Linked DNA regions of Homo sapiens: regions 2 and 3 are each linked to region 1. The links come from fine-mapping of genetic effects on gene expression. A gene starts in region 1. Each other region holds a variant in brackets. All regions are shown on one strand. Distances are between the middles of the regions.

Region 1 (11,556 bases):
TTCACTATTCTAAGAATTCTGTCTCAAGGTAAAGGCCAACTCGATGGAGTCGGGATACATAAATGAAAGTAGGCAGATCCTGAAATGCACTGCAAACTTGACTGAAAAGCCCTTATCAAAATAGGAGCCCCTCTAAAAGAAGATCCCCTGAAACTGTACAGGAAAAAAACAATTAGACCTTTCCTGACGTCTTCTTAGCAGGCAAGTATTCACATACATATGTTTCTTTATTTAAAAGTCCCTGGACATTAAATGCCAGCAGGACGGGTAACTTCACTTTTCAACAAGCACCTCTTCTCCTCTCCACTCCCCTACCTCTGATGGCAAAGCATTCAAGCTCCTCCATGGAATGCTTTAGCCACTCAGTTAACTCTAAGATAGATACTAACTATTCTCAACTCCATACATGACTGAGAGTGTCAAAGACAAACTAAACATCACAATTTTCTGTGCAAGTTCTCCACTCCCTCAGTGTGAAGAACAAAAGACATGTATAAGAGTTTCTTGTCCCATATTTTTATACATAAGCAAGCACCCACCAGCTGAAGAAATAAAGCAGAATATCTGTATTACCCACATCATTCACTTTTGGGCCAATTTATGAAATGTTCCATACTCTTTCCTGAGGTTTCGTGTAATAAGGGAGAGAGTTACGGAGCCAAGTTGCCCAACTAGCTAGCTGTGTTACCTTGGGAAAGTTACTTAACTGATCTCTATCTCTATCTTGGTTACCTCATAGATAAAATGAAGATGACCAGAGATGACCACAGTACCTATGTTTTCAAGTTGCCATACGGATTAGATGAGTTAGTAACACAAAGCCATTAGCACCACAACAGTCAAAAACAAGCCAATGTAACTTTATGAACAGCAAATACCACAGAATGTTGCCGCTATCATTGCAGTTTCTCCTTTCTCTCCATCCACCTCACAAATTCCTTAGAAAAAGGAATATATTATAGAAGACTTAGGTTTGTTTTGTGTTTTCCACAGCAAGGAAAATAATTAACTTCAAGAACATTTACTGAGTGCCAACTATACTAGTAGCAATGTATTAGGAATGGGAAACATAAAGATGAGTAAGACATAATCCTCAAGATATTTAAAACCAGAGGAAGACACATTAATAGGTTTGGGGATTTGGTTGCCTGCTAATCATGAAACAAATACTTATGATGCAGTACTAAAATCAGGTGAGAATGAACTAGGAGCACAGAAGAAAGAACAAACTGCTGAGACTGAGATTGTGAAATCCTTGAAGGATGAACAAGTTACTCAGTAAAGGGGAAGAAGGACATTTATAGGCAAGGGAAAGAGTATATGCATAGACACATTGCTGAAAAAGTTCATGGCAAGTTGTAGTAAATGGGTACCATCCAGTGTAACTGCAGCACTTACAAAATGAGGAGAATGTAGACTGCAGCCATACTACAATGGGACTTGTACGCAATGTTAAGGATTTCTAACTTTTCTCCATAGGGCAATGGACAGTCACTGATGGCTTTGAACACTGTAAAAAATATAATACATCTTTGTTTCAGGAAAAAAAATTTAGAAAGTAATTTACATAGTATTATGAAGCAGTAGAAAGCAAGAAGACTATAGGCAGGGAAACCAGCTTGAAGGTAACTATTGTCATCTAAAAAAGAGGTACTAAAGATTTGACCTAGAATTGTGAGAACTTGGATTTGAAAGACACTTCAAAGGGGAAAGGCACAGTTTTGAGGCTGGCTCTTGGCCAAGAAAAACAAGATGACAGAGTAAGAGTCTTGGTTCTCAATGGATGGTGATACATGGCACTGCACAGAGCAGTTAGTGGGTGCTCCATAAATATGAGATGGAATCAAATTTTTATAACCTGATAAAGAAATTAACTAAATTAACTTGGATTGGGCCAGGTAGAGAATTACAAAGCATCCACATGTCCAAAACAACCATATCCTTAAAATAAAAGTGAAAGAGAAACAAAATTAAGTGAAAGATTAAATACCAGTTGATAGAAAATACCACAGAATTATTTTTAAGCGGAAAAATAAAACCAAGACATCAGAATTTTTCCCTAAAGTATATTTTTAGAACTTTAGTCCCAAAATATATACCATAATAAAACAGATCCAAGGTCAAACACATTTGGAAAATGTTACCTGCCATAATCACCCTCGAATACATACCACAAACACTAGCATATAAAATACTCTGAAAAGTTCCATAATTTAAAACATTTAACTTTATTGAAGACAGAGTTTCTCAAACTTCTGACCATGAAACATTACCAAATCTTCCACAGAACCAGTGTCTCTAAGAACATATTGGAGAACACTATGCTTTGCAAAAAGTTCTCCAAATAATCAGACTTTCAATTAAATCAGAAGGAAGATTACAAGGCATGGAAACACACAAATACAAACCTTCAGGTGAAGTTTTTGAAGAATCCGAGTGAGCAACCGTGGAAATCTTCCTGTATCTATTGCATTTATCAGTGACACTGCTTTCTTCATGCTAAACAAAATTATAAAACAGAGTTTTGAAATGAGTTTTCCAAGTTGAACTGCACTTTCTATAGTTGTCTATAAGTTTTCATTCCAACAACTCTGAATGCTATATGGTAAATCTGAGTGAAATAAAAACAGATGACAGCCAGCAAAAAAGGCAGGGCAACGGGTACATTTCCAAAAAGATGCCCCCAAAATTACTTCTGCTGAAAAGGTCCATTTGGCAAATTTTCTCTTTCTTTTGGGCAAACCAAACTACTAGGGAAACCTTGTACTGCGCAGGGAAGAGCCTTAATTTAGTAGAGCGTTTATATAAACACTTAACCCAAAAATGGAACTCTGAAAGGGGTGGGAGGAGAGGAATAGCAATTATGGCAATTACACCAAAAACATAAAAGAATACTGCAAGGCAAATAACTTTTCAAATACTATGTACAAAATCATCTGGGGTCACTAAGCACACAGTTATTTTAAAACCCTGTTTCAACTGTAAAATCAAATTTATTATTACAACAGTAATCAATTTTGAGATAGGGTCTTACTCTGTCACCCAGGCTGGAGTGCAGTGGCACGATCTCAGCTCACTACAGCCTCTGCCTCCTGGGTTCTAAGAATCCTTGTGCCTCAGCCTCCCAAGTAGCTAGAACTACATGCGCGGGCCACAGCGCTGGCTAATTTTTGTATTTTTTGTAGAGACAGAGTTTTGCCCTGTTGCCCAGGCTGGTCTTGAACTCCTGAGCTCAATCAGTCCTGCAGTGGCTCACCCCTATAATCCCAGCACTTTGCAAGGCCAGGGAGGACAGATCACCCGAAGCCAGGAGTTCCAGACCAGCCTAGCCAACATGGTGAAACCCCATCTTTACTAAAAATACAAAAAATTAGCTGGGCGTGGTGGCGGGTGCCTGTAATCCCAGCTACTCAGGAGGCTCAGGGAGGAGAATCGCTTGAACACAGGAGGCGGAGGCTGCAGTGAGCCGAGATGGCGCCATTGCACTCCAGCCTGCGCAACAAGAGGGAAACGCCCTCTCAGGGAAAAAAAAGAGAGAGAGATTAGCCCGCCTCAGCCTCCCAAAGTGCTGGAATTACAGGCATGAGCCACAGCACCTTTCCTGTAATAATCAACTTTAAATGATGTGATGAGAACAATTCTATACTGCACCATATTGGATACAGTTTACTGATGTAGCGGTGTTCCCCAAGACACTGGTATGAGGAAAGAAACTGGCGATCAGAACCAAAGTGAGGCAGGAAAATAGGGTCAGGAGGCTGGGAACATAAAGCTGATTCCCACTTCAGCTATGACAAGAAATGTCCTCTCCATATGGCATAGGCGGAGAAAATGACTTTGTAACTTTACTTCATCCTCTTCATTTACATAGGGAGTACACCAAGTAACCAATGGAATCCTCTAGAGGGTATTTAAATTCCCAAAAATTCTGTAGGGGCCCTTCAGCCCCTATGCTCAAGCAGCTCCCACACTGTGGAGGGTAGTTTCATTTTCAATAAATGTCTTCTTCATTCTTTCCTCGCTTTCTTTGTGCGTCTTCTCCAGTTCTTTGTTCAAGACGCCAAGAACCTGGACACCCTCCACTGGTAACAAAAGGAATCCAGAAAGAAGGAAAAACTTTAAAATAACTCTTTTCTTCTGAAAGATTTCTACCCAATCCAAGCACAAAGAAATTACTTCCGAACACTATTTTGCCTATATACTTCAGTACTTTTTCTGTATCCACACGCTACCTGCACTATTGCTTATTTTTTCACAAATTGAGTCTTTTTTTACTTAAATAATGTTAAAGGGGAGCTTTATATCACTACCATGGACAACCAACTTTATCTACCATAAGTAGAAATTAACTAAAAATCTGTTTAAAATGCAAATAAAAGCAAATGCTACCAAAGCCAGGCTAGATTCTTCTACCAACCAAAAATTCGGTCCCCTATTCGATACTGATTTAAAAGGGGTATTAACACATGTTGGCTATTAAAGACCCTCCAGCAGCAGCGTGAGCCTTTCCCACCAGAGTGTCTGAACCGGAACTGAAATCGGAAACGGAATACCGTTCCACGTGATTCGGCAGCACTGAAGGCAGCACCCGGGAACTTCTGATACCAAACTCCGCGAACAGTGACGCAGACCCCACGCTTGCAGACCACACGCTTCCGTACAGACCTCAGCTGCCAGGCGCACTGTGAGCCCCACAGGTGGACCACCGTGACTGTAGAGGCGCTACACGGCCCCACGCACTCCGCAGACGCAGCGTCGCAACCTCGGCAGCCCACCCCACCCCACCCCACTCAACCGGGCCCGCCGCGGCGCCCAGGCGGCAGGCAGCAAGGACAGCCTTGTGCGAGCCCGATCTGGGCCTTCCTGGGCGCGGCTACCGCAAGAGCTTAACGGATCAGCTACCTGGGGCTCTCCCGTAGGATCAGCGCCGCGGGGACCGCCATCTTCGGCTTTCTCGCACTGCCGCCGTCTGTTAGCTGCGCCGAACCCAGCCAATGGCGGCCGCGGCGGACGGAAAGCCGGAAGGCCCAAGCCGCGCAGGGGCCGTTTTAGGGCTCCGGGTCTCCTGCGACCCGGGCGCCGGGAGACTTGTCCCGCAGTCCTGGAGGGCGGAGAGGGCAGCCCAGTTGCCCTCCCGACACTCCAATCGTGTTGGAGTTAAGTCTGTGCATATATATGTCTTTATATTTATATATTATATATGTATGTACATACCTGGATAGGGGTGTGTGTCTGTATTTAATAGGGCAGGTTTAAGCAAGTCTATGTACAGACCTGTATAGATATATGTGTGTATGTTCGTGCATAAATATATACATTATTATTTTTAATAGGGCAGGTTTAAGCAAGCCCGTGTATACATACTTGGATAAATGGTGTGTGCGTGTGTATATTTTTTTAATAGGGCGGGTTTAAGTGAGCCTGTGTGTACATACTTGGATAGGTGATTTGTGAGTATTTTTTTTTCCAGCGTTTGGGCTACAGAGAGGCAGGCATTTGAGCGAGCTCCCCCGAGCCTGCCCAGGAAGCGGCGCATCACCCCTCAGGAGAGGTGGTGCCTCCAGTTCCACCCTAAGCACTGTGCCGTCAACCCCTCCTGTATCTGCATCTGCAGGGCTTGTAGTATGTACGTTCAATTCCTTCAGCAACGTTCAATGAATGAGTGCCTACTGTGTACCAAGCACTGTTCTAGGCACTGGAGATACAAAAGGCCAAAATTCCTGCCCTCAGGGTTTGCCGGCAGTCTAAATGGACAAGTATTTGTTGCACCCTTCTTTAGAGTCTGACAGTGCAGAGTAGGGGAGATGAATCGCTGCAGTGAGTGATGTCAAAGACCTCACCCAAGACTAGGGAGACACCATGTTTGCATAAATACCTTGGTCTGCCTTTGAGAAAAACATGGAGTGAGTTAAAGGAATTCAGATGTGGGAGCAGTGAAAGGCATCCGAGGTAAGATCAGGAAAAGCTCCCTAGGGCAGGTGGCAAATGCGGTGGGTCTGCAGAGATGTGGAGGGTGAGGCTGTGTGTTTCAGGTCAGTAGAGTAGAAGGGCGGTTTGACGTTTGAAGAACAGGAATTTAGACTAGAAAAAGCCTTTAATGACTGGTTGTGGCATGTGCACTTAATCTGGTGAGAAATGGGTAAGCATTAAATGTTTTTTCTATCCATTAAATGTTTTGAACCAAAGAAATTTTGCAGTGGGAGTTGGATTTTTGAAGGTTGCTGTCAGCAGAATGATGATTGAAATGGAAAGAGGTAAGCAGGAGAGCTACCTGGAAACTACTGCAATAATCTATAGAAAGCAGTAAAATCCTGTGGTACTAAAAAGGCATTGGTGAATTAAAAGATAGTGGATGGATTAGTTACGTTTCAGCAGTAGAATATTCAAGAGCTGCCAAAAAATTGAATTTAATTTTCCTTCCTAATTATGTTTTACTTAAATTATTATTTAAATTAGTTGGAGTTCCTGGAGCAGCCCAAGAACAACCTAACTGAAAGGAGAAACCAGATTGCACATTAAATCTGAATAATCTCCACATGGATAATTGAGTCAATTATACAGTGTGTTGAACACATACAAATACATTTAGTTCCACAACACTCTACAGTCCCCAATGTATGCATATCTGAAAAAGATGTATGTGAATCTACATAAATTATAGGTCTCTGATCCAAACACAGATGACCTCATCTGCAACTTAAAAGGGTCCCAGTTCCCTCATTCTTTGAATCATTTCCCTTTTGTCTTGATTCCTTACCTGAAGTAGAACCACTAACCAACTAAAACTGTTTCAAATCCCTAATGAAGTTCACCCTCTGATTGCCTTAAAAATATATAGCCAGAATTTTGAGCAAAAGAGCATCAAGATGGCTCAAATCCCAAATCCATGTAACCTTGGACAAAGTACTTAACCTCAACAAGTTTCTCATTCCCAATCTGTAATGGGGATGAGAATAATGTCTGCTCCCTTGGATCTTAATGAGATTTAAATAATGTGGTACGTATGTAAAAGAAACATTCTACCCTCCTTAGAAAACAAAACCCAGACCTCTTAGGTGTTCACAAAAGCAAGTCTCCAGTGGACACAGAGGCGACTCACTCTAATGCTCTTCATTTTCAATGATGGGCTGATTACTTCTTATTACCATGTTTCTATAAAGGCGTGATGCTGTGAATAGTTTCACACCTCAAATGAGAACCTCACCCAAGATATTTCTGCATTCTCTGGAATATAGACATCTATGTCCATGAAAAGTCCTTTTAGTTGTCTGCTATTATTGTGTGGGAGTCTTAAGTCTCTTCGTAGGTCTCTAAGAACTTGCTTTAGAATCTGGGTGCTCCTATATTGGGTGCATATATATTTAGGATAGTTAGCTCTTCTTGTTGCATTGATCCCTTTACCATTATGTAATGCCCTTCTTTGTCTTTTTTGATCTTTGTTGGTTTAAAGTCTGTTTTGCTAGAAACTAGGATTGCAACCCCGGCTTCTTTTTGCTTCCCATTTGCTTGGTAAATATTTCTCCATCCCTTTATTTTGAGCCTATGTGTTTCTTTGCACACAAGATGGGTCTCCTGAATACAGCACACCAATGGGTCTTGATTCTTTATCCAATTTGCCAGTCTGTGTATTTTAATTGGCGCATTTAGCCCATTTACGTTTAAGGTTAATATTATGTGTGAATTTGATCCTGTCATATGATACTAGCTGGCTATTTTGCCCATTAGTTGATGTAGTTTCTTCATAGTGTCAATGGTCTTTACATTTTGGTCTGTTTTTGCAATGGCTGGTACTGATTTTTCCTTTCCATATTTAGTGCTTCCTTCAGGAGCTCTTGTAAGGCAGGCTGGTGGTGACAAAATCCCTCAGCATTTGTTTGTCTGTAAAGGATTTTATTTCTCCTTCGCTTATGAAGCTTAGTGTGGCTAGATAAGAAATTCTGGGTTGAAAATTCGTTTCTTTAAGAATGTTGAATATTGGCCCCCACTCTCTTCTGGTTTGTAGGGTTTCTGCAGAGAGATCCGCTGTTAGTCTGATGGGCTTCCCTTTGTGGGTAACCTGACCTTTCTCTCTGGCTGCCCTTAACATTTTTTCCTTCATTTCCACGTTGGTGAATCTGACGATTATGTGTCTTGGGGTTGTTCTTCTCGAGGAGTATCTTTGAGGTGTTCTCTGTATTTCCTGAATTTGAATGTTGGCCTGCCTTGCTAGGTTGGGGAAGTTCTCCTGGATAATATCCTGAAGAGTGTTTTCCAGCTTGGTTACATTCTCCCCATCACTTTCAGGTACACCAATCAAGCATACGTTTGGTCTTTTCACATAGTCCTACATTTCTTGGAGGCTTTTTTCGTTCCTTTTCATTCTTTTTTCTCTAATCTTGTCTTCATGCTTTATTTCATTAAGTTGATCTCCAATCTCTGATATCCTTTCTCCTGCTTGATTGATTCAGCTATTGATACTTGTGTATGCTTCACAAAGTTCTCATGCTGTGTTTTTCAGCTCCATCAGGTCATTTATGTTCTTCTATAAACTGGTTATTCTAGTTGGCAGTTCCTGTAACCTTTTATCAAGGTTCTTAGCTTCCTTGCATTGGGTAGAACATGCTCCTTTAGCTCAGAGGAGTTTGTTATTACCCACCTTCTGAAGCCTACTTCTGTCAATTCATCAAACTCATTCTCCATCCAGTTTTGTTCCCTTGCTGGTGAGGAGTTGTGATCCTTCGGATGAGAAGACGCATTCTGGTTTTTGGAACTTTCAGCCTTTTTGCGCTGGTTTTTTCTTATCTTCGTGGATTTATCTACCTTTGGTCTTTGATGTTGGTGACCTTCTGATGGGATTTTTATGTGGGTGTCCTTTTTGTTGATGTTGATGCTATTGTTTTTTGTTTGTTAGTTTTCCTTCTAACAGTCAGGCCCCTCTTCTGCAGGTCTGCTGGAGTTTTCTGTAGGTCCACTCCAGATGCTGTTTGCCTGGGTATCACCAGCAGAGGCTGCATAACAGCAAAGATTGCTGCCTGCCCCTTCCTCTGGAAGCTTTGTCCCAGAGGGTACCCACCAGATGCCAGCTGGAGCTCTCCTGTATGAGGTGTCTGTCCACCGCTGCTGGGAGGTGTCTCCCAGTCAGGAGGCATGGGGGTCAGGGACCCACTTGAGGAGGCAGTCTGTCCCTTAGCAGAGCTCAAGTGCTGTGCTGGGAGATCCGCTTCTCTCTTCAGAGCCAGCAGGCAGGAATGTTTAAGTCAGCTGAAACTGCACCCACAGCCACCCCTCCCCCAGGTGCTCTGTCCCAGGTAGATGGGGGTTTTATCTATAAGCCCCTGACTGGGGCTGCTGCCTTTCTTTTGGAGATGCCCTGCCCAGGAAGGAGGAATCTAGAGAGGCTGTCTGGCTACAGTGGCTTTGCCGAGCTGCAGTGGGTTTGCACCCAGTTGGAACTTCCCAGCGGCTTTGTTTACAATGAGGGGAAAACCGCCTGCTCAAGCCTCAGTAATGGCAGACGCCCCTCCGCCCACCAAGCTCAAGCGTCCCAGGTTGACTTCAGACTGCTATGCTGGTAGTGAGAATTTCAAGCCAGTGCATCTTAGCTTGCTGGGCTCCATGGGGGTGGGATCCACTGAGCTAGACCACTTGGCTCCATGGCTTCAGCCCCCTTTCCACGGGAGTAAACAGTTCTGTCTCGCTGGCATTCCAGGCACCACTGGAGTCAAACAAAACTCCTGCAGCTAGCACGGTCCAAACGGCCTCCCAGTTTTGTGCTTGAAACCCAGGGCCCTGGTGGTGTAGGCACCTGAGGGAATCTCCTAGTCTGCGGGTTGTGAAGACCCTGGGAAAAGCGTAGTATCTGGGCCGGATGGCACCTTCCCTCAAGGCTTCACTTGGCTAGGGAAGGGAGTTCCCTGACCCCTTGCACTTCCCGGGTGAGACAATGTCCCACCCTGCTTCTGCTCACCTTCTGTGGGCTGCACCCACTGTCTATCCAGTCCCAATGAGATGAACCGGGTACCTCAGTTGGAAGTGCAGAAACCACCCGCTTTCTGCGTTGGTCTGGCTGGGAGCTGCATGCTGGAGCTGTTCTTATTCGGCCATCTTGCCAGCCAAGTAAAATATCCATTGCAAACTTTTATGAAGTCCACTTTTTATTACATTCTGTATTAGCCTGACTTTTCTAGAAAACAAGCCTAGTTATTATACATCCTTCATCAGGAACTATAATTGCAAGGGAGTAGGAATGCAGGCAAAAGGGAAACTAAGGAAAGGTAAGGAGAAAGCAAATACAGGGTGGCATGTTATCGAACTGGTTACAGCTTCAAAACCTAGCTTATTTCTCAGTACTCTGGGATATTTCCAGAGAGGCTATTCAGAATCACTGTGTCTTGGAACAACATGGCGTGGGAGTGGAAGAAAGAAATTGTCTGTGAACTCTTTCCAATTTTTTCTTTCTTCATCAAAATTTGTCCTATAACTCATGCTCCTGCATTTCTAGGATATGTCACCTGGTGCCTCTAGGCAGCCCCACTGGAAAATTCAGAGCTTCCCTGGTTCCAATAGAATAGGAACTGAGTCCTGAAGCTATAGCAGAAGAGGAACCCATGGTTCAGTCCCTGCCCATAGCCCCTTCCTTATCCCCCTCCCTCTGCCCTGCCAAGGGTGGCAGTGAGTGACAGGAGCTTTAAACCATGGCAACTGTCAGAGTTTCCAGGGGCCATTTTGTCAGGAAAGTAGAGCAACATGCTGAAGCCTTGGAAACAAGTGGGGCTGAACTTACCTGGGGAGGGGCATAACTTGGAGACAGTTCTAGCCTTTAGTGGAGTCTCAAAACAAGAGGTGCTTAGGCCCTAACTGCTTCAGTCTTTACTGTGCAGCTTTTTCAATTCACATTCACCTAGTTTGCCCAGAGTACATCATGGCACAACTTGGAGTAAGTTCTGGTGTCAGCCCTCCCTGTATCCTGGAAGCTAAAACTTCCCTCTGAGTGTGAGCTTTGTCCTGTTTGGAAGGGCTCCTTAGTGGCCTCTACCTACAGCGCCACTGTACACTCGCCCTCCCCCCATCAGGCGTGATTTATATTTTTGACACCCAGTGATGTAAAGCCAAGATCTGGGGTGTTTTTCTCCCAGAAGTCTTCCCCCAACCCTAAAGGAACTCTGAAGACACCAGGGATCCTCACCCAAATCTATCCTTCGACATTCCAGTCCCAAATGCAAATGATTATCTTTGGAGGAAGAGTAACACCTACTCACCCACCAGAATAGTGTCCCCAGAAACCTAGTCCAGCTGAAATGATCTTTTAAGTAATTTTTTGATATATATTCTCAAATAGGGGGATGCAGGCATTTTATTATGTACCTCAGATTGTTCTGGCAAAGGGTTGCCCAACTATGTGACCCAGTTCCTTAACATTTTGAAAGTCTGAAGTCCTACAACTTATCCTGAGTTCATCAAATGCATCTAGCAAAGAGACGTATAAAGGCAGGAGACTCAAACTATCTGCTACCCATGTCTGACTGCCAGACTGACTATAAAACACAAACTTCATATTGAACAGCTTTGTCACGTTCA
Region 2 (11,556 bases), 210 kb before region 1:
GCACATCTCATGGGTTTCATATGATGTAAATCAGTCCAACTTGCAGATGATCAAATACGTTTAAAAAAGGAGGCACAAAGGTAGGCCTGAAGCCTCTTGGACATCTGTTACTGGAGCACACAAGAGTAACTTGATTCGTCAGTTAACATCTCATCCTCTCTTTTTCTTGGTTTCCTACTTAGCTATGTTCCACTGTAAATGCTTAGTCTGCAAAGAGAGAAGCAATGTTTTCTATTGTTCTTTTCCTTCTACAAATGCAGCAAACAGCCAAAAGATAGAATCAAGCCAGGCTACTGAGGGCATATTCCATACCTCTTCACTTTCCTAGGGAGCTAGAGGGGGATGTTGAAGTTCAAGTTCTCACTCAGAAGTACATAGAGGAAGGTGAGTGTAAGGTCAGTTTCCACCATGCCAGGAACGGGGAGCAGAGACTCTCAATGGTCTATTGTGGCAGGAAGGTAACCAATGAGCCTTTGAAACTGACCCAGCAATGTCTTCCCTCTGCTTTCAGGGAGATGAAATTTTTGCTCATTTAGAATGGAGAGTTAGAAGTGTCAAGCAGGTCTTCTTTGGGAGTCAGAGTAACTGATTTCAAAGCCTTCTTCTCTTACTCGAGGCCTACTTGAGAATTGAAAGATATGAATGATACCTTTGATGTTTTTGCCCATAGCTCTCTACGTTTATCACTGAAAAATAAGACAGATCTGCTAAGACGACTGATAAAGGACAGAGGCTGGAATTGTGATTGCATTAATGGAACCTGACTAGAGAACTTCACAAATGCCCAAATCTTATCCTGCCATTCACTCCTGATGCTGACATTTCCAGAAGAGCTACACATAGGAAGACTGATAGCAACTGGGAACCAAAATGACAATTATCTTTCAGAGCTTGGTAAGGTTGGGTAAGAGCATATGGTTCATTCTTAAGGCCTAAGAAAGACACTCCCTCCCTACCTGCCCCTCTTCCCCACACATCTCAGCTTCTCCTCAAAATCTGGACTCTCTCTATTCCATCCCATAGAGTGGAAACAAGAAATGCAAAAGGAGCACCATCCATGGGCATGGTCTTTTTATGGTTGATCTGGCCATCGATAAACATGGCCAACCAATACTTTAACTGACCAAACATGAATGGCAAGCCATTCTTCCCTAAAGGATGTGGGAGAACGAGAGAGAGGGCCAATAGGGAAGTAGGCAGAGAGGCAGAAGCATTTCTTCCTCTATAACATATTCACCCTATTTCCATAAAAATGTTCTATTTGAAATCCTATACAGAGAAGTTTATGAAATTGATTTGGCTTCCTTTAGTAAACCCTAAAGTAAAAACGCTTAGAAAAATGATGAAATAAGGTTTAAATATTTAATTATAGGAGAATTTTTAACATTTCAAAAAATACAATCCTATGGAAAGAAAATTTGATCTGATGTGGCTCTATTTTTTCAAGCAGACTCTTGTAACCCTGGATCTCCTTACACAGACTATAGAGCTAAATATAAACATTAATTAAAATAATTTTCAAAGATTATCTTGCTTACAGATTTAACTGAAAGTGTAAACTAAAGAAAAGGGATCAAAGAGTAGAAATGCATTTACAGGAATGGCATTAACTTAAGGAAAATGATCCTGGAAAATCAGAGACGGGAAGGGTGCTTCATGGAATCCAGTACAGAACCACAGCACTGTAAAATCAGTGCATTTGGGTAAGTGCTTATTGAGGGCCTGAAGAAATAACCTCACAGATGGTGGCCACCCTCTACTGGTCCATCAGTTTAGGGCACCTATCAACACCTATGAGCCTGCCAAGCAGAACTTTACAAGATCACTGACCCAACCATATGAAGGAGGTTAATAGCATATCTAGCAAAGGTGGCCACCCCCAGAGTCCTCCAAGCCTGCTGTGTGAGAAATGCCTGCACTGGATAATTTGCAAGTCCAGAAAGCCAATGCATCCAAACTCACTGACTTTCTTTTTACTACTCTAGTTACTTTGTTTGGATGACATAAGGAAAGAACATACTTTGCAGTAAGAACCAAAACTCTGACAAAGAAGGCCTTGAGTTTCAAGGATTCACAGGGCATTCTGCCATAAGGTAGAAAAGTTAGATGTTATAAATATTACTCTATCATAAGAAACTGATCCCTCACATTGGGCTCTACATCTAAAGGCACAGTCTTAGTTGCATAAAATTAAACTAAACTGTTACTGAACAGCTTTCTGTGTGGCTCTGTTTATCTTGCCTGCTTTCTGTACTATCTATGTCAACTTTATCTGATTTTTGTCCAGCTGGTATATTTGTGATAAGTTGGAACAATCTGTGCCATGTAAAGGGAGACTTAAAAAAACTTTGTCAGAATTGTCCCACATCAGTGAGGAAAGCCTGTTTGTAGGCAGTGTGTACAGGAGTGTGTGTGTGTGTGTGTGTGTCTATGTGTGTCTTTAATCAAGATACTCTTTTCAGCAGGAAATTAAAATCTTCTGGGTAATGAGCTCAGAAAATCTATACACACTGAACATATATTTCAGTATAAGAATGTTGTTGATGTCTCTCTGGAGCACTTCATTTTGACCCTATCACATAAAACAACTCTGAAATTGCTAGGAATGTAACTGTTTTCAGTCTTGCAGCATCAGTACCCAGAAGCATGTGTAGGTCAACTTCATGACTATCATAAATCTCTTCACAGCAATGCGAGAACTTGCTCTAGCCTTCTGGAGGGCAGAAATCTGGGTCTCTGGCTGGTTATAAGGCTTTTATTCTCATGTTTATCTCCTGGATGATGAATAAAAGGATCAGTGACCTCAGGAGATACTCCCTAGAAGGGATGTGGCTATTCCCTAATGGAATTACCAAATACCAGCATAGCTGGCTAAACCAGTTTGAAAACTACTTTTGTACAACTTTAAGTTTACAATTATTTTAAGAATTTAGATAGTACTGTGCAAATAAATGGAGAGAGCCCAAGGCAGAAAAAAACTACATACTCTATTAATTCATTCATTCAGTATTTCTAAAGCACCCCAATGTTCGTAGAACTACTTGCAGCAGCATGAAAGAGAGTAAGAAGCTGGACTGCAAAGTAGAACACATGGTCTGGAATACACAAGTCACCTTTTCTCTGATCAGCTGGAAATTACTCTGCTCCTCTGTCAAAGCATAAACACATTCTTGGGATGGAGAGGAATGCTGGAGCTTCCAAGGTTGATGTGTTAAAGCAGCCTTATCCAGGGGACAGCAGCTTTTTCCTTTGTCCCCTTATGTAGTCTGGTTGAAACTGCAGAATAATTTGAAATGTGGACTAAAAATAGTGCACAAAGGAAACTTAGAAATCTCAGAAGGAGAGATGAGGAAAGGCCTTGAGAAATCACTGCACTCCTTGCCTTACAGCAAGTCTATATTTATCATAGATTTAAAAAACTTTATTATTGACTTTCCTTTAAAGTTTTGGGTAGAATGTACAGTGTTTTTAATTTTTATTTGCCAATTAAAAAAATACAAACATAAGTCAGAAAAAAATAAATGCAACTATTAAATTTACTATTAACTGCTTTCCTTTACCTAGATTTTTTGAAGGAAAAATCTTTAAAAATCATTAAAAAATCAGGTTCTCATTAAAAGATGCTAAAAATGACTGAACTCTGGTTTCACTAAAAGAAGATTATTATATATTCATTATTTTTCCTGCCTTGGAGATTGAAACAGTCTCTCTAAGCCTCTAGCACCATCTTCCTTACAGATTTGTTGACTGGACTGGCTTCACCTTTCCTGTCTTTGCAGACTACTTCTTTTGAAATAAAAATCAGTAACTTTCCATTTCAAATAAAACAAAGTAGGCTATGAAAACTGCCATCATTTAGATTTGGATTGTAGGCCTCCATAACAGCTAGTACAACCTTATAGTTCAGAGAAAAGCAAAAGAGCTTCAAAAATACTTCAGGAGTGTGCATATGGCGAGATGGGAGCAATGGTTAAAAATCCTTAAAATTCTCCAAAATTAAAAATGCCATTAAGCTTTACTATAAAATACCTCAAATTAATGTGTTCCTAATTTTAGCATTAAATGAAGCTGGTCTATTGAGTAGGACTATTTGCATAATGATGGCAAAAAAAAAATCAAAGTTTTAGGGAAGCAAAATTGATCAGAAATTTAAATTATAATTCCTGAGTAGCTTCTGACTAATGCATCTGAATAAATCAGAACCATCCCAGTCCTCTTATTCAACAGTAGAAAAAGAATTATGGAAAGACTTTGGGGGAAATTTACAATATACCCTTATGGTTTCTCAAAACATTTGTCTCAAAATAACCACACTGAAGGAGGGAGGTGAATATAGGTTCCCAGTAACACTGAGAATTTAGCCTGAATTCGCAGGCTGCAAGCACAAAGGTTTTGTTCTGTTTTTTAAGGTTTCCCATTTCCTCTTTAACATTTATATGCATTTTGCCATAAAATGTAAATCTCCATTTTAAAATATGTTGTACATTACTGGCCAATTATAATAAAATTATGTTGCCACCATATTAGTTAGGCTACAGGCAAACGTGCTGTGTATAGCCTAAACTGACCCCAAATTTAATAACTCAAACAAGATATTTTATTTCTGTCAAGGGCATGGAGACAGCTGTGTTCTATAAGTATATTCAGGGACCCAGGTTCCTTCCATCTTGTTGCTCCCTACCTCTTAAGCATTAGCATTCTTGTCTGCTCAAAGCTGACTCAGCTCCAAATCTGGGTTTCAATCACAGAAAGAGGAAGACAACTGGAGATGAATGATCACTTCCATTCACAATTCATTAGCAACACTTAGTTCCACGGCTGCAGTAGCTGCAAAAGAGGATAGAAAATGTAATTTCTTCTACTTCTGGCAAAAAGTAGAAGTGATGCTATTGAAATATATACAACGTCCATCTTACGACTTTTTGTGTTCCCTACCAACTACTTTATTTCTCTAGGGATGCTCCGGTTTAGAGAGCATAGTATAAAGCAGGGTTCTGCATCCTTTCTTTCTATAAAGGGCCAGGTTTTAGGCTTTGTGGGCCATATGGTCTCTGCTGCAACTACTCAACCCTGCTGTTGTTCAAAAGCAGCTACAGACCATATGTAAACAATTGAGCATGGCTGTTGTTTTAGTTATCTATTGCAGCGTAACAAATTACTACAAAGTTAGAGGTTTAAAACAACAGAGTTATCATCTCACAATTACCATGGGTAGAGTTCAAGCATAGTTTAGTTGGGTCCTTTGTTTAAAATCTCACAAGGCTGCAATAAGAGTCAGTTGGACTGTGCTCTCATCCAGAAGCTTAACAGGGAAAAAAACAAAACAAAGCCAAACAAAAAAACGACAAGAAAACCCATTTCCAGGCTAATTCAAGGTTGTTCGCAGAATTTATTTCATAGAGGCTATAAGGCTAAGGGCCTCAATTTCTTGCTGGCTGTTCTCCCTCAGCCCCTAGAGGTCACCCTCAGTTCCTTGTCATGTAGCCCTATCCGCAGCCTCTCTTATAACATGGTATTATTTCTTCAAAGCAAGGAAGGGAGAAAGTCTCAAGAGTGAGTTTGGTAGCAAGACAACTGTGTTCCAATAAAACTTTATTTACAAAGACAAGTGGTGGGTCATGTCCATCATTTGCTGATCCTTGGTATAATGAATAAAGTGTAGAAGACATTATTTACGGTAAGAAGAAATCAAAGTTCACTGAGTAGAGAAAAAGATTTCTCAGAGCCAGAAGAGCCACGTGGAAAGGTACTCAGAAGAAAGTATTTTTTTCATTCTGGTCCCATAATACATGTATTACCTCATTTTTTAAATAAAAAATAAAAGCAGAATTGGCATTGTGTTAGAATCTGTGATTATAAAATGGAGTTGTTATTAGAATGCCAAATAAGTTTAAAGTGAAGGGGCTTCATAGCAAGCTTTCTACAATTTTGACTCTAATTCAAACTTCACCTGGAAAAATTTCAACAGAGAGTCTGCTTATTTTCTTAATGATTATAAAAATGTCAGCTAATGCTTATTATATGATTGAGATTCAAGGATTATGCTAAATGTTTAACATGAATTTCACTTAATCTTCAAAACACTCATGTTAGTTAGATTATTATTCCTATTACAAAGATAAGTAAAGTGAACTTTCACAAATTAACTTGCTCAACACACACACACAAAGTAGAAGAACAAGGATATAACCTTTGCACTGTCCTGAGAAACCAGATCGTTAAATTTTACTTAATGTGTAATAGGATCCTTTGAAGGGTTTTAGGCAGGGAGATGGTATAATTAATAGGTTATTTTTTAAAAATTAGCTCTGTACAACGACTGGACTGGAGGAGGGCTAGAATGGAAGAAAGGTGGTCCAGGGCAAAGTTGATGGCAGCTTGGACAGGGTAGTGCCCTGGAGATACACTTGCAATACATTTTGGTGGTAAAAACGACAAAACTTGTAAGAGAATGGCTCCCTGTCTACCTAATTGTAGTGCACTCCACTATGCCATCTGTTCACTACACTCTAGCCACACTGACCTTTTGGTTCCTGAAATGCGCTAAGCCTTTCCCATCCTCTGAGATTTTGCATGGGCCATTCTCTCTAGAATGCCTGTCACTCTATTCTACTATTGTGCCATCTTAACTCATCATATTGGACTCAGCTCAAATCTCACTCCTCAGAGAATCCTTCCTTGATGCCCCAGTCCAAGTTTGGTTCCATCATTAATTTTCTCTGAATAGAATCCAATTATATTTTGTCCCATATTTGTTCATTTATTCCATATTTGTTTACTTTTCACTAACACATTACATTTCAAGAGGCCAAGAACTAGTTTTGCCTATCACTGTAAACATGGTACCTAGCATACACAGTTCCTGCCACCATATTCACCATACTCAGCAGTGATTACTTGTTGAATAAATAAATGCCTGACTTCGAAGCCCTTACACTTGAATACTGAGTTATTGGCTCTCATATTT[G/C]ATTTTTAAAGAGATTTCCTTTTCAATCCTTCTATAGTTATCAAAGTGACATATCTCAATATGTCCCATCACTCTTCCTAAACAAACACTGACCTCAGGTTATAAAAAATGTTGAGGGTGAAATGTATAGAAGGAAGAAGGGGCTGCTGAAGGTGGCTTGAGGCAAGTGAGTTCTCATTCATTGTTTGTGGGAGTACAAATTAATATAATCCTTTGGAGAAACAATTTAGCAATATATATCAAAGGCCTTGAAATAAATATAAATGTATTTTTGAAAATACACAAGAGGTGTGTATATTTGTATTATAAGATGTCTGGTTTTTTGTGTGTTGAGATGGGGTTTTGCTCTGTTGCCCATGCTAAAGGGCAGTGGCATGATCACAGCTCACTACAGCCTCAACTGCCTGGGCTCAAGCAGTTCTCCCACCTCAGCCTCCCAAGTAGCTGGGACCACAGGTGTGTGCCACCACACCTGGCTAATTTATTATTATTATTATTTTTTTTTTTTTTTTTTTTTTTTTTTGTAGAGACAGGACTCACTATGTTGACCATGGTGGTCTCAATCTCCCGGGCTCCAGCAATCTGCCCACCTCAGCCTCCCAAAGTGCTAGGATTACAGACATGAGCTACTGCACCCACCAAATGTCTGCAGTATTAGGTAGGTACTTCCAGGAAGTGAGATGGCAAAATGGTGCAACTTTGTTTTAATGGGCAGCTATATATATATGTATGAGAAAAGGTCTCATTCTGTCACCTAGGCTGAAGTGCAGTGGGATGATAGAATGACTCGCAGCCTCAACCTCCTGGGCTCAGGTGATCCTCCCACCTCAGCCTCCTGAGTAGCTGAGACTATAGGCATGCACCACCAAGCCTGGATAATTTTTGTATTTTTTTATAGAAATAAGGCTTTGCCATGTCGCGTGGGCTGTTCTCAAACTCCTGGGTTCAGGTGATCCTCCTGCCTCAGCCTCCCAAAGTGTTGGGATTACAGGCATAAGCCACCACACCTGGCCTTGTTTTTTTATAATGAAAATCCGATTAAAGATGAAAATAGAAAATAAATCTTCATACTTTTGACATAGCAACTCTACTTCTAGGAATCTATACTAATAATATCACGAGAGATGTGGTCTAGGGTTTATGTATAATTATATTTATCAGTGAGTTCCCTACGTTCAAAAATTTGAATAATCTAAATGTGCCAAAATTTGGACAATTTAATTATTTTGAGAAATATAAAGTATATAAAGTATAGATCATTCAAATGATGAACTATTTAATATACATTAAAATTATGTTTGGGCAATAAAGATATGAAAAATGTTCATGCTGTAAGGGTACATAAAGCAAAGTATGAAACAGAATTTATGGCATTACTTCAATTTGTTAGGAAAGAAGAAAAAATGAACAAGAAAGATAAATGGATACAAAAAAACTGCAATAAATCTATCAAACTGTCATTAATGGCCATTTTTGGATGATAGGATTCTGTAAGTTTAGATTAGTTATTTATGATTTTTTGGTATTTCCCAAATAAAAATAATCATGATAATTTATAATTAGGGAAGAATTACAAATATAATTTGTAATAGATACAAAAATTAGTTCCTCTTTCTAACAAGCAATTCTGTCTATTCAATCCTCATGTCACACACTCGTGAAAGACATACAGTAACTTTATTTACCAAGATTGCAGTTCCAAGCCCCATTAATCTCATTTATCTTATTTTTATAAAAAAGTAACATGCATTTAATACTCTTTGGAAATGCCACATGTTCTTTGACTTGTGCATCATAACAACAGTAATGTCTTAAGAAAGAAAGTTATCTTCAACTAAATATTTCAGAAATAATTATCTTCTTAGTTGGCATTAGATCTTCTACTTGCCCTTTCTTTACTGTCTCTGAGTCAGATTTTGTTGAACTAGACTAATGGAAAGAAGACTATTTGCCATATTTTTGCATAGGTTTAGAGATATTCTTAAGATAAATATAAAGCTAATTCTTTTAGGGAGCATACAACGAACTACTTTCAGAAAACTTCATTTCTAACCATCATATTTAACTTGTATACCTACATTAAGAATTCAGTTTTGCCACTAAACCAACGAAAACTTCTATTTATCTATATGGCTACTGTCAGGAAGGCCTATCAAATTTAACTTGGGATGATGTATATTTACATGTACATGAGAAAAAGTCTCAAAGAATGTTTACCAAAATGTTTATAGTACCTCTAGGACTTCAGGTATTTACTTTTGAGAACTGGCAAAACAGAGCGTAAAAAAGTAGGAGAGATCCTACAAGCCACATTATATTGCAAACATGCCTTCCAGATATTCTACCAATGAAAGTTTGAGTTTAAAAACTTTCAATCAACTATGGAAAACTGTAATAGTTGTATTCTGAAATAATCCAAACTCTCAATTCTTCTAAGCAACAGCTTACAAATAGATATACAAACAAATGTGGGTATAAATTCCATATACTGAATATTTGAGAGATACTTAACAGTTGTATTTCCCAGATGCTTCAAATAAGAAATGTGCTTCAATTTCAATGGCTTTGCTTATTTAAATATAGGACATTTCTGAAATCAAATTTCTTCATGTGAAGCAAGTCATGTTTGAATCTCTCTCTTTTTGGAAACAATACAGAAATTTCATTCATAAAAAATTCAAGTTTTTTTTAAACAAATGTATGTAAATGTATTCATTACATACATTTTAACAAATGTACGTAAATGTATTCATTTACATACATTCATGGCATAAAATATACTATAATGTATATAATTAAAAAATGTACACTTCAACCAATCCTAAGACACAAAAATTTTATTGACAGAAATCAACGTATTTATGGAAAGAGAATATAAAAGGTATCTGATTCGAATAATGGTGCCCATTTAGCACTCATTACAATTATTTTATTCAAGACCTGATTCTGTCTCCCAAACTATAAAGTGAATCATTATTAATTTGCAGTATAAAGAAAAACACACAAAAACCTGGACTATTATTAAATCATTAAACTGAGAGAGAAACTGAAGTTGACAGAGAAGCTCAGACTGGAATTAACTGATACCATACTACTCACTATTTTACATTTCCTTCCTATATTATTTCCGAAGCAAAATATACTCATCATATTCAAATAAAAATGCCATAGTGTATTTGATTGTATATGGCTATTTTCTTAATTTTATTCATGTAATTACCAAAGCTCTGTATTCTACTAAGGTACACATCTTATCTTGTATCCATGGACGCTCCTTGATACATTATGGTATCATCCAGCAAGTAAAAACTAAGCAGGACAGGCAAGAAAGCAACACTATGACAGTAAAAACAATATGGTATTCACTTTTGTTTCCTTTAAAGGGAAAGTGTTCTTAATAATTACTGTTGGCTCACAGAACTAAAGAAAGTATATTAGAACCTCAGTATTCTTAACAATGATCTCTATTGGTTGTTATTTGTCTAAGAAGTGATAAGCCATATAATTTACAGAAAGCAAGTCACTGAATCCTTCAGAAAACACAACCTGGCAATGTATCTTCAATGCAAAATAATGAGGTGGCAGGAGCGTGATGAAAAAAACAGTCTTCGAAAACATCATGTAAGGGAATCCAGCTGTGCTTGTATAGTCTCTAGCTATTTACAAAGACAAAAAAAAAAAAAGACGTTAGTGAAGGGAACGAAACTCATATCAAGTGTTATTCAGACACATGCAAATAGAAAGGAAAAAATAGCACTGGTAACTATGAATATTAAATCCATTCACATAGCAATAAAATTACCACTTAGAATATTTTTCTTTTTAGGTGAAGATATTAGAATTTGTGCTTGAAAATTTAAGTTTTCAAATTTTCAAAGAAAGAAGATTTCTTAATACTGTTGTTTTAAGTGTCTTCAGCTGTTTCCTTTTAAATTATCACTCCATAATTTTTTTTTTAATGAGACATGGGGTTTTATTGGAGGCTTACATATGAGGGAGTGGGTACAGTGGTGGTGGGCTGAACAGGATAACCACACGCATGCTCCAGTGGCAGTACACTGGCAGAAGAACTGCCTACTTGATAATATTTTAAAGTTGGGGGGTGGAGGGAGTATATTTTCCTGGATTACAAAATCAGTCTTCAGAAAGAGACATGAAATATACTCACAGATAAATCTCTAAAGGCATGTTTCCCTTTACCCTTGGGCCCAGAAATTAAAGTATTTGACATTATATATATTTAAAGTGTCAGTGTGGCTAGGAATCACAAAGTTCATTACTTAATGTTTTATATTAAAGCAACAATCCTATTGCTTTAATTAAAACTATTTTCCTTTTCTTCCTGATTTAGTTTTTCAAATTCTCTTCATTTCTGCTATACTTCCTCCTGTGAAACATAAGGTCTTTTATAAGGGAAGTTTAAAGAACTTAGTTCCATAATATGACATTTAAAAATAAGAATTCATAAAATGAAACAAAATATTATGAAAAAAACTCCACATATTAGAAAATTATTTTAAAAATACAGACCTTGTTATAGAAATCAAACAACTCCTTGTGACTGAATTCCACAAGAACTTTCTCCAGGC
Region 3 (8,000 bases), 190 kb before region 1:
TATCAGTAAAAATTCTGTTTAGCAAGGCTTGTATCTTAATTTAAATAACTGAATTAAGGTTAGATTTTAAAATTTAGAATAAAAAAATCATGTATGACACAAAAACATAATATATGATAATGCTACTAACACACTTTGATTTTCCTTTGACAATTAAGAAGATACGGCTGGGCATGGTGGCTCATGCCTGTAATCTCAGCACTCTGGGAGGCTGAGGTGGGTGGATCACCTGAGGTCAGGAATTTGAGACCAACCTGGCAAAATGGTAAAACCCTGTCTCTACTAAAAATACAAAAATTAGCCAGGTGTAATCCCAACTACTTGGGAGGCTGGGGCAGGAGAATTGCTTGAACCTGGGAGGTGGAGGTTACAGTAAGTTGAGATAGTGCCATTGCACTACAGCCTGGGTGACAAAAGCAGAAGTCCATCTCAAAAAAGAAGAAAAAAAAGAAGATATTTCTCAATCATGCTTCACATGCTTATATATATTTTATTTGAAATTAATTTTTATTTTTCTTTCTGGCAATGTCTTACTGATACTTTAAGACTCTTCTGAAGTGTTACCTCCTCTGCAAAACCTCGCCTGATTTCCTCTCCCCCTCCTATCCACCTGCTGCTTGCTTTGGTGCTGTACAGCACAGTAAGAATACCTGTGTTAGTACTTACGATCATTTTACAATGAAGGCTTCCAAAACATAGTGTGTTCCTTAAGGTCAAGGGTAGTACCATATATATATATATACATTTTTTTTTCAGTTTATTTCTTTACTTTCCCTCTAAAAGGAGCCAGGATTAAATAAGAATAGGGGATACTTATATTACTTATAAGCACAGTGATTACTTGTACGCTCATTAACATATGGTGAAGCAAATCTGGCCATTAGCAGTTTATGCCTTATGATTTAGGATCTGATGTTCTACATACAACTTTGTGAAGTATGACATCTTTATTTCATTAATTTATTCAACTTTCTAATTATATACTTACTTTGAGTGCAAATTAAGCCATCAGATATGTTCTGGTGCTTTGATTTATACAGAACATGGTGTATTTTATGGATATTGAGACTAATTTCACTTGTTTTCAACATAGATTTACGAGCAACACGCTAGGGTGTTGGGGTTACAGCAATGATGAAGACAATGTGTACAATCTTTGTTTTCCTTGAGCTTACGAGTCCAATAGAGACAAATAAACTGAGGTTACAAAATGACATACTTTGCCCTAACAGGCAAAGTATAGGGCACAGAGAACAAACACTACACCTACATTCTGGAGTCAATAAAGGATTCCTAGTAGAACTGATATCTAATCTGATACCTGAAAGATAAATTATTGGGAATAAAGCAGGATGGGGGATATTCCCACCAGCAAAAGAGAACATGAAAGGGAAAAGCAGAGCAGTCTACTAGTAATTTAAATTTGTGATGATGGTGGCTTGAACTAGCATAGAAGCAACAGACTATAACACATACAGATTTAAGAGCTATTTTGGAGGTACATCCACAAAACTGATTCTTTCAATGAAAGACATGGGTGAGATGAAGAGTTAGGAATCAAAGATGAAGCACAAGTATCTGCCTTGGGCAAGTGAAAGATGGGTAGGGCCATTCATTGAGATAGAATGGGGGTTGAGGGAAGTAATCTTGGGGATGAAATAGAGGTTGGGAATTTCAAGTTCAGTTTAAGACAGGTATTTCCAAGTATCTTTGGATAAGCATGTAGAAAATACCAGCAGGCCATTAGATGTACAAACTCAGTATTTAAATTAGGAATCTGGGCTACAGATTAATACTTAAGAGTGCTCAGGAGGGAGAAAAACAGACAGAAATTAGAGCTATAGTAACACAAAGTACTGCTTAAGGCAAATGTGTCAAGAAGATCAATAATAAATCCTTAAGGCACACCAATAATTAAGAGACTGCCTTGAGAGGTGGGTTAAAAACTAGAGGTAGGTCAGGGACACTAAAGAAAGAAAAAATTTTAAGGACAGATTGATTAGAATGTCAACTGCTCCCAAGAATCCAAATGAGACAAGGACTGGTAAGTGTTCATTTTAATTCAATGATGAGAATGTTACTGATATTGGCAAAAGTATTTTGGTGCAGTGATGGGGAAAAGCCAAGCCCAGCTGAACAGAGGAATGAGTATACAGTAAGAAAATCAAGCAAATGTAGCTCAGGGATTGATAGTCCGCAGGCCAAGTGTGACCTGCTGTCAGCTTTTGGGAAAAATCTGACCTACTTTCAGTTTTTGTAAATAAAGGTTTATTGGAACACAGCCACACTCATTCTTTTATATAGTGTCTAAGCCTACTTTTGTGTTGTAACAGCAGAGCTGTATAGTCTGCAAATTTAAAGAATTTACTATTTGGTGTTTTACAGAAGAAAGTTTGCCAAACTCTATTGTAGACAAATGTCTCAAATTATTAGTTCTATTTACCAAAAGTGACCTAATAAGCATCCATATTTCTCATGTTTACCACAAGACTTGCCAGTTAGAAAGACCTGTTGTTGATATATAAGTAGAAGTATAAATCTGCTGTACTGAATACAGTGTAAGTGCATCTCAAGGTTGAAATTTCAGACCCTCTTCACTATCATTTAATATATTGCTGTTTTATAGGAAAGGTTGGTGACAGTTGCAGAGGCTGTTAGATCATATCTTTGGGTAAATAAAATACATCACTTAGCTCATATTTACATACATTTTATGACATTAGTAATGACTGATATCATCTAAAGTTCTCTAAGAGAAAATAAATGCAATTTTAAGATACTTTAAAAAAAGTAAATTGTACCCTCAAATTTTCTCTTTTCTGTAGTTTATTAATAATAAATGCCTTTTTTGAATGATGACTTTAGTTCCAAGTATTATATTTTAATGAATCATTTATTCATATGAAGTCAATAAAAAATTTGAGTGTCAGTTTCAAAACTCCAGTTCATCTACAAACAGAAGTCAAAGGCTTAGATCAGAAACATTTCAACTGGACTGTTCAGCTTTTGCTTGCTATATTGGTCTTTGCCTGAAATGACTCATAGCATAACGAAGCTTCACAATTTGGTTTAATGTTTTGTATCTGTTAATGTTTAGACAGGCTACATGCCTCTGTAGTCTAGTCATTAATATTAATGAGTTTTGTGACCTAGGCCAAGTTAATAAAACAAACTTCTAAATATCCTGTTTAAAAGTTCTCAATAATAATTTTGAACTTGAAATTGTTTTGTAGAATTGTTTTATAGGACTGGAACATATACAAAGCTTTCGAAGACATCTTCTATCTTGGATGAGGAAAAATGACAGAATGGTGACAGCATCTATCAAACATCACTTTTTGATTACAGGTCACATATGGCTGGTTCAAAATCATAGATTTAATGGAATAGGGAATTAAGATACATTACAAGGAGGGTTCTTCAAAAAGCTCATGAAAAATGCATATTATGAAAAAACTATGCATGGATTTCAAAATTCTTTTGCACCAAAATATACTAACTTTTTACAGTATGTCTGAACAGGATCTAGTTTGAGGCACTAAGAAGGATAGGACATTCATTTAAAAATAGCCCCTATCAGAGCAAACTGAATTCTTCTAAAAGTGAAGCAAGAACAAGCATCACATTTAAGATGAATTGTGGGTGAAATGTGGTGAAATCATTGATGTTTTATAAAGACTTGATGGAGACAATGCCCAAAAGAAATGAGCAGTTTCCAAATGGATAACTTGTTTTAAGAAGGGACGAGACAACATTGAAGATGAAGCCCACAGTGACAGACCATCCACATCCATTTGAGAGGAAAAAAATAATCTTGTTCATGCCCTAAGAGAACCGAAATTAAGAGCAGAAACCAGAGCCAACACCACAGACATCTCAATTGGTTCAGCTTACACGATTGTGATTGAGAAATAAGTTCAGCAAACTGTCCACTAGATGGATGCCAAAACTCTTACAACACCCAGATCAACTGCAGACAAGAACAGAGCTTTCAATGAAAATTTAAATGAGTGGGATAAAGATTCCGAAGCATTTCTTCCAAGAATGGTAACAGGATATGTAATATGGCATTACCAGTATGATCCTGAAGACAAAGCACAGTCAGAACAATGGCTACCAAGAGATGAAAGTGGTCCAGTCACGAGCAAAGGCTATGGCAACAGTGTTCTGGG[A/T]TGTTCAAGTCATTTTGCCTACTGACTTTCTGGGAGGCCAAAGAATGATAACATCTGCTTATTATGAAAGTGTTTTGAGAGCATTAGCCAAAACTTTGGCAGAAAAACACCTAAGAAAGCTTCACTAGAGTCCTCCTCCACTACGACAAAGCTCCTGCTCATTCCTCTAATCACACAGAGCAATTTTACAAGAGTTTCAATAGGAAGCCATTAAGCATCCCCCTTACAAACCTGATTTGCCTCCTCTGACTTTTTATTTCCTGATCTTAAAAATATCTATAAAGAATACCCATTTTTTTCAGTTAGTAAGGTACAAAAAGACTGCACTGACATGGCTAAATTCCTCAATTCCAAAAGAAATGAGGGATGGACTAAATGGCTGGTATTATCGCTTAGAAAAGTGTCTCGACCTTAATGGAGCCTATGTTGAGAAATAAAATTTGCATCTTTTATTTTTATATTTTAATTCAATTTTTCCTTGACCTTTTTGAAGTACCCTCGTATTTCACAGAGGACTGAATACAACATGGGAACAGGTTAAATTTGTGTAATCCCAAAGTGGTTATAAGTAATTTTTACTTTCATGTCAGATCTGAGCTAACAAATATAAAACTGAGAGGTTGGTGGTTACGAAAAGATAACTCATTTGTATCACAGAGTTGGGAAAAAGTAAATGATTTTGTAAAAGTGGAATGTTTGTATGGAGCAATATTATGTAAAGTAGGGGGAAATAATGGCCTAAGAGTTTCCTTTTAGACATTTAAGCAGGGTCTGACTTAAACAAAAGTTTGCCAAGTCTTGTAGAAGCAGCCAAGGACTATGCTGCAAATCAAACTCTTCCAAGTAGACATAGGCTCCTTCTAATTGGTCCAGACTAATGTGAAACCATTATTTTCAGCAGCACAGATGACTAATGCCTTCTTAAATGTTGATCTTCCATACTGGTAGCTTAGGAGTAAAAACCACATTAGTCGTCATGCTCTCAGTCTGGTCATGGTTTAGAATGTTAACCCAATTCATGGAGGGTACTTATACTTACATAATAGAAACTAGATTTGAGATAGGAAACAAAAGTATACAAAGTATATTAAGCAGAATTAGTAATACACCCTAACTTCTATTTGGGGATGCTTACTAAAATGGTTATGGAAATGATAATATAAAGATATAGGAATTTTATATAATCATAAATATAAATATATATTTATATTTTATATATATTTTATATATTAAATATATAAAAATTTAAAAAGATAAAAATGCTTAAACAGGAAAAAAAATTGTTTTTACTATCATGTGAATTTTCCCCATGTTTATGTTTATTAAAAACTGACATAAACAAAACCTGTACAGAGAGTACTCTTTAATATACACTTTATTTCAAAGTACTGAAATAGTGTTTTATGATCATATATTTCTAGAGGAAAGATTTTCTCCCAAGCCTTTAAGGGGAAAGCTAATCCACTTGGAGAAATTTTGGGCCACCCACCAAACCTGTGATTTCCTGCCCCAATTTATGAACCAAGTTATACTGAGATTGTTAAATGGTGTGATTTTATTTATTTATATATAATCTTTATTATTATTTTTTGAGACAGAGTTTTGCTCGTTGCCCATGCTGGAGTGTAATGGTGTGATCTCGGCTGACTGCAACCTCCACCTCCCAGGTACAAGTTATTTTCCTGTCTCAGCCTCCCAAGTAGTGTTCGGATTACAGGTATGCACCATCAAGCCCAACTAATTCTTCTGTATTCAGTAGAGATGGGGTTTCACCATGTTCGTCAGGCTGGTCGTGAGCTCCTGACCTCAGCTGATCCATCCACCTCGGCCTCCCAAAGTGCTGGGATTACAGGTGTGAGCCACCGTGTCCGTCCTAATTTATATATAACCTTTATATAATGGGAATGATTATACAAAGCAGCAGCATCCCTGTTCTTTCTAGTCCCCATGCCACTACCTAATCTAAGCACTCATTTTTCAGAAATCAGAATGCTGAATTTGCTAACATTCCTTTTCATCAGTATCTCCATTCTCTAGACCGTTCTAAATACAGACGCCAAATTCAGTTTTTCGAAATGCTACTCTCTACAAAAGACAGTCAATATCTTCTCCACAACCAACTGTAAAGTTCTACCTTTTTTGCCTAGAAGTTAAAGCTTTCTATAAACTGGTCCCAGTCTAATTTTTCCTTTTTCAATTATGAAATATTTAAAATGTTAAAATAACAGGAACTAATACATGAATATAACAAACAGCCTGTAACCCAACACCCAGCTGTAACAATGTATAAACTTTTTTTGCTTTCGAAAAGCCTAAATAAAGCATCCAGTTAAAGTCTGCCATTCATCCCATCTCCTTCCCTTTAGTAAAAGGATAAAACCTTGCTGTAAATAAAAATGTAAAGTAGGAAATAAGAAACAATGGACAAAATACTCAAAAACATAATTCTTCATTATGTCAAGATAACAAGAATATTTTTTTAAATGCTGTCCATTTACTAACCTTAGATTAGAAGGCTTGAAAGTCAGAAAATAACAATAAAAATGGCAATTAATACATCTTTTCCCTTCCTTTCAAATTTGTGACAGAGGTGAAATTAACCTGGTTTCTGGAGATGGGATTAAAATATGCAGAAATGGGGTAAAAAATATATATTAATTCTCTCATCCTCATCCCTTATTCCTCTAACAAAAGGTAGAGAAGTAAGACTGGCAAGTCAGACTAGGAAGGGTACTTTAATAACCTACATGTAAGCAAACCAAGATGGCTTACAACCTCAGCAACCAAAATAATTGGCAAAAATCAATACTTTCTTTTGTGCGCTTACGGAAAAGTTGAGGGGAAAGGGAAACTTAAGAAGAGGCTAAAATATTTGAGATGAATCAGTATGGTATTTTTCAAAAAGATAAGGGAAAACCATACAATTTAAAACATATAATTTTATAAATGTAATAAAAAGTAACATTGAAATGCCTGAAAAAAAATACCAGGTGAAAATATCACTTGGACTAATCCAATTTTTCTAACTTGAACTGCATAAGATTTTTTATTTTACTACCTGAAATCTAAAAGTCAATATAACCTATAAAGTAAAATGTGAAAGTCATAAGGAGAAATCACACCATTTAACGATCTCAGTATAACTTGGTTCATAAATTGGGGCAGGAAATCACAGGTTTGGTGGGTGGCCCAAAATTTCTCCAAGTGGATTAGCTTTCCCCTTAAAGGCTTGGGAGAAAATCTTTCCTCTAGAAATACTATGATCATAAAACACTATTTCAGTACTTTGAAATAAAGTGTATAATAAAGAGTACTTTCTGTACAGGTTTTGTTTGTGTCAGTTGTTAATAAACATAAACGTGGGAAAAATTCATGACAGTAAAAACCAATTTTTTTTCTGTTTAAGCATTTTTATCTTTTTAAATTATTATTATTATACTTTAAGCTCTAGGGTACATGTGCACAACATGCAGGTTTGTTACATATGTATACACGTGCCATGTTGGTGTGCTGCACCCATTAACTCGTCATTTACATTAGGTATATCTCCTAATGCTATCCCTTTCCCTTCCCCCCACCCCACAACAGGCTCCGGTTTGTGATGTTCCTCTCTCTGTGTCCAAGTGTTCTCATTGTTCAATTCCCACCTATGAGTGAGAATATGCGGTGTTTGGTTTTCTGTCCTTGCAATAGTTTCCTGAGAATGATGGTTTCCAGCTTCATCCATGTCCGTACAAAGGACATAAACTCATCCTTTTTTATGGCTGCACAGTATTCCATGGTGCATGTGTGTCACATTTTCTTAATCCAGTCTATCACTGATGGGCA

Direction of the effects. Alleles are on the strand shown, and positions count from the first base shown. SD is a standard deviation of normalised expression in the study named. Not every link is listed here.
For the expression in monocytes of the gene that starts at base 4,971 in region 1, allele T in region 3 goes with a higher level than allele A (moderate effect, 0.66 SD a copy in Quach 2016).

Evidence for each region. PIP is the estimated chance that this variant, and not a neighbour inherited with it, causes the effect.
Region 2: its variant is fine-mapped to the expression of COMMD10 in whole blood (TOPMed, PIP above 0.99).
Region 3: its variant is fine-mapped to the expression of COMMD10 in monocytes (Quach 2016, PIP 0.91).

The regions. Positions count from the first base shown.
Region 1 is chr5:116,078,440-116,089,995 of GRCh38, reverse strand. COMMD10 (COMM domain containing 10) reads right to left here and starts at 4,971. Exons shown (of 7, transcript NM_016144.4): 1 at 4,903-4,971; 2 at 2,409-2,499. The coding sequence starts at 4,943. RefSeq lists enhancers at 4,430-4,724, 5,018-5,177.
Region 2 is chr5:116,291,518-116,303,073 of GRCh38, reverse strand. It overlaps COMMD10 (COMM domain containing 10), which reads right to left. Exons shown (of 7, transcript NM_016144.4): 6 at 11,498-11,556; 7 at 9,787-10,623. The coding sequence ends at 10,585. Among named protein-coding and RNA genes, the nearest start is that of MIR12130, 42 kb to the right of the region's middle. The variant G/C (reference allele first, on the strand shown) is at 6,968.
Region 3 is chr5:116,268,701-116,276,700 of GRCh38, reverse strand. All of the region lies in intron 5 of COMMD10 (COMM domain containing 10), which reads right to left. Among named protein-coding and RNA genes, the nearest start is that of MIR12130, 17 kb to the right of the region's middle. The variant A/T (reference allele first, on the strand shown) is at 4,173.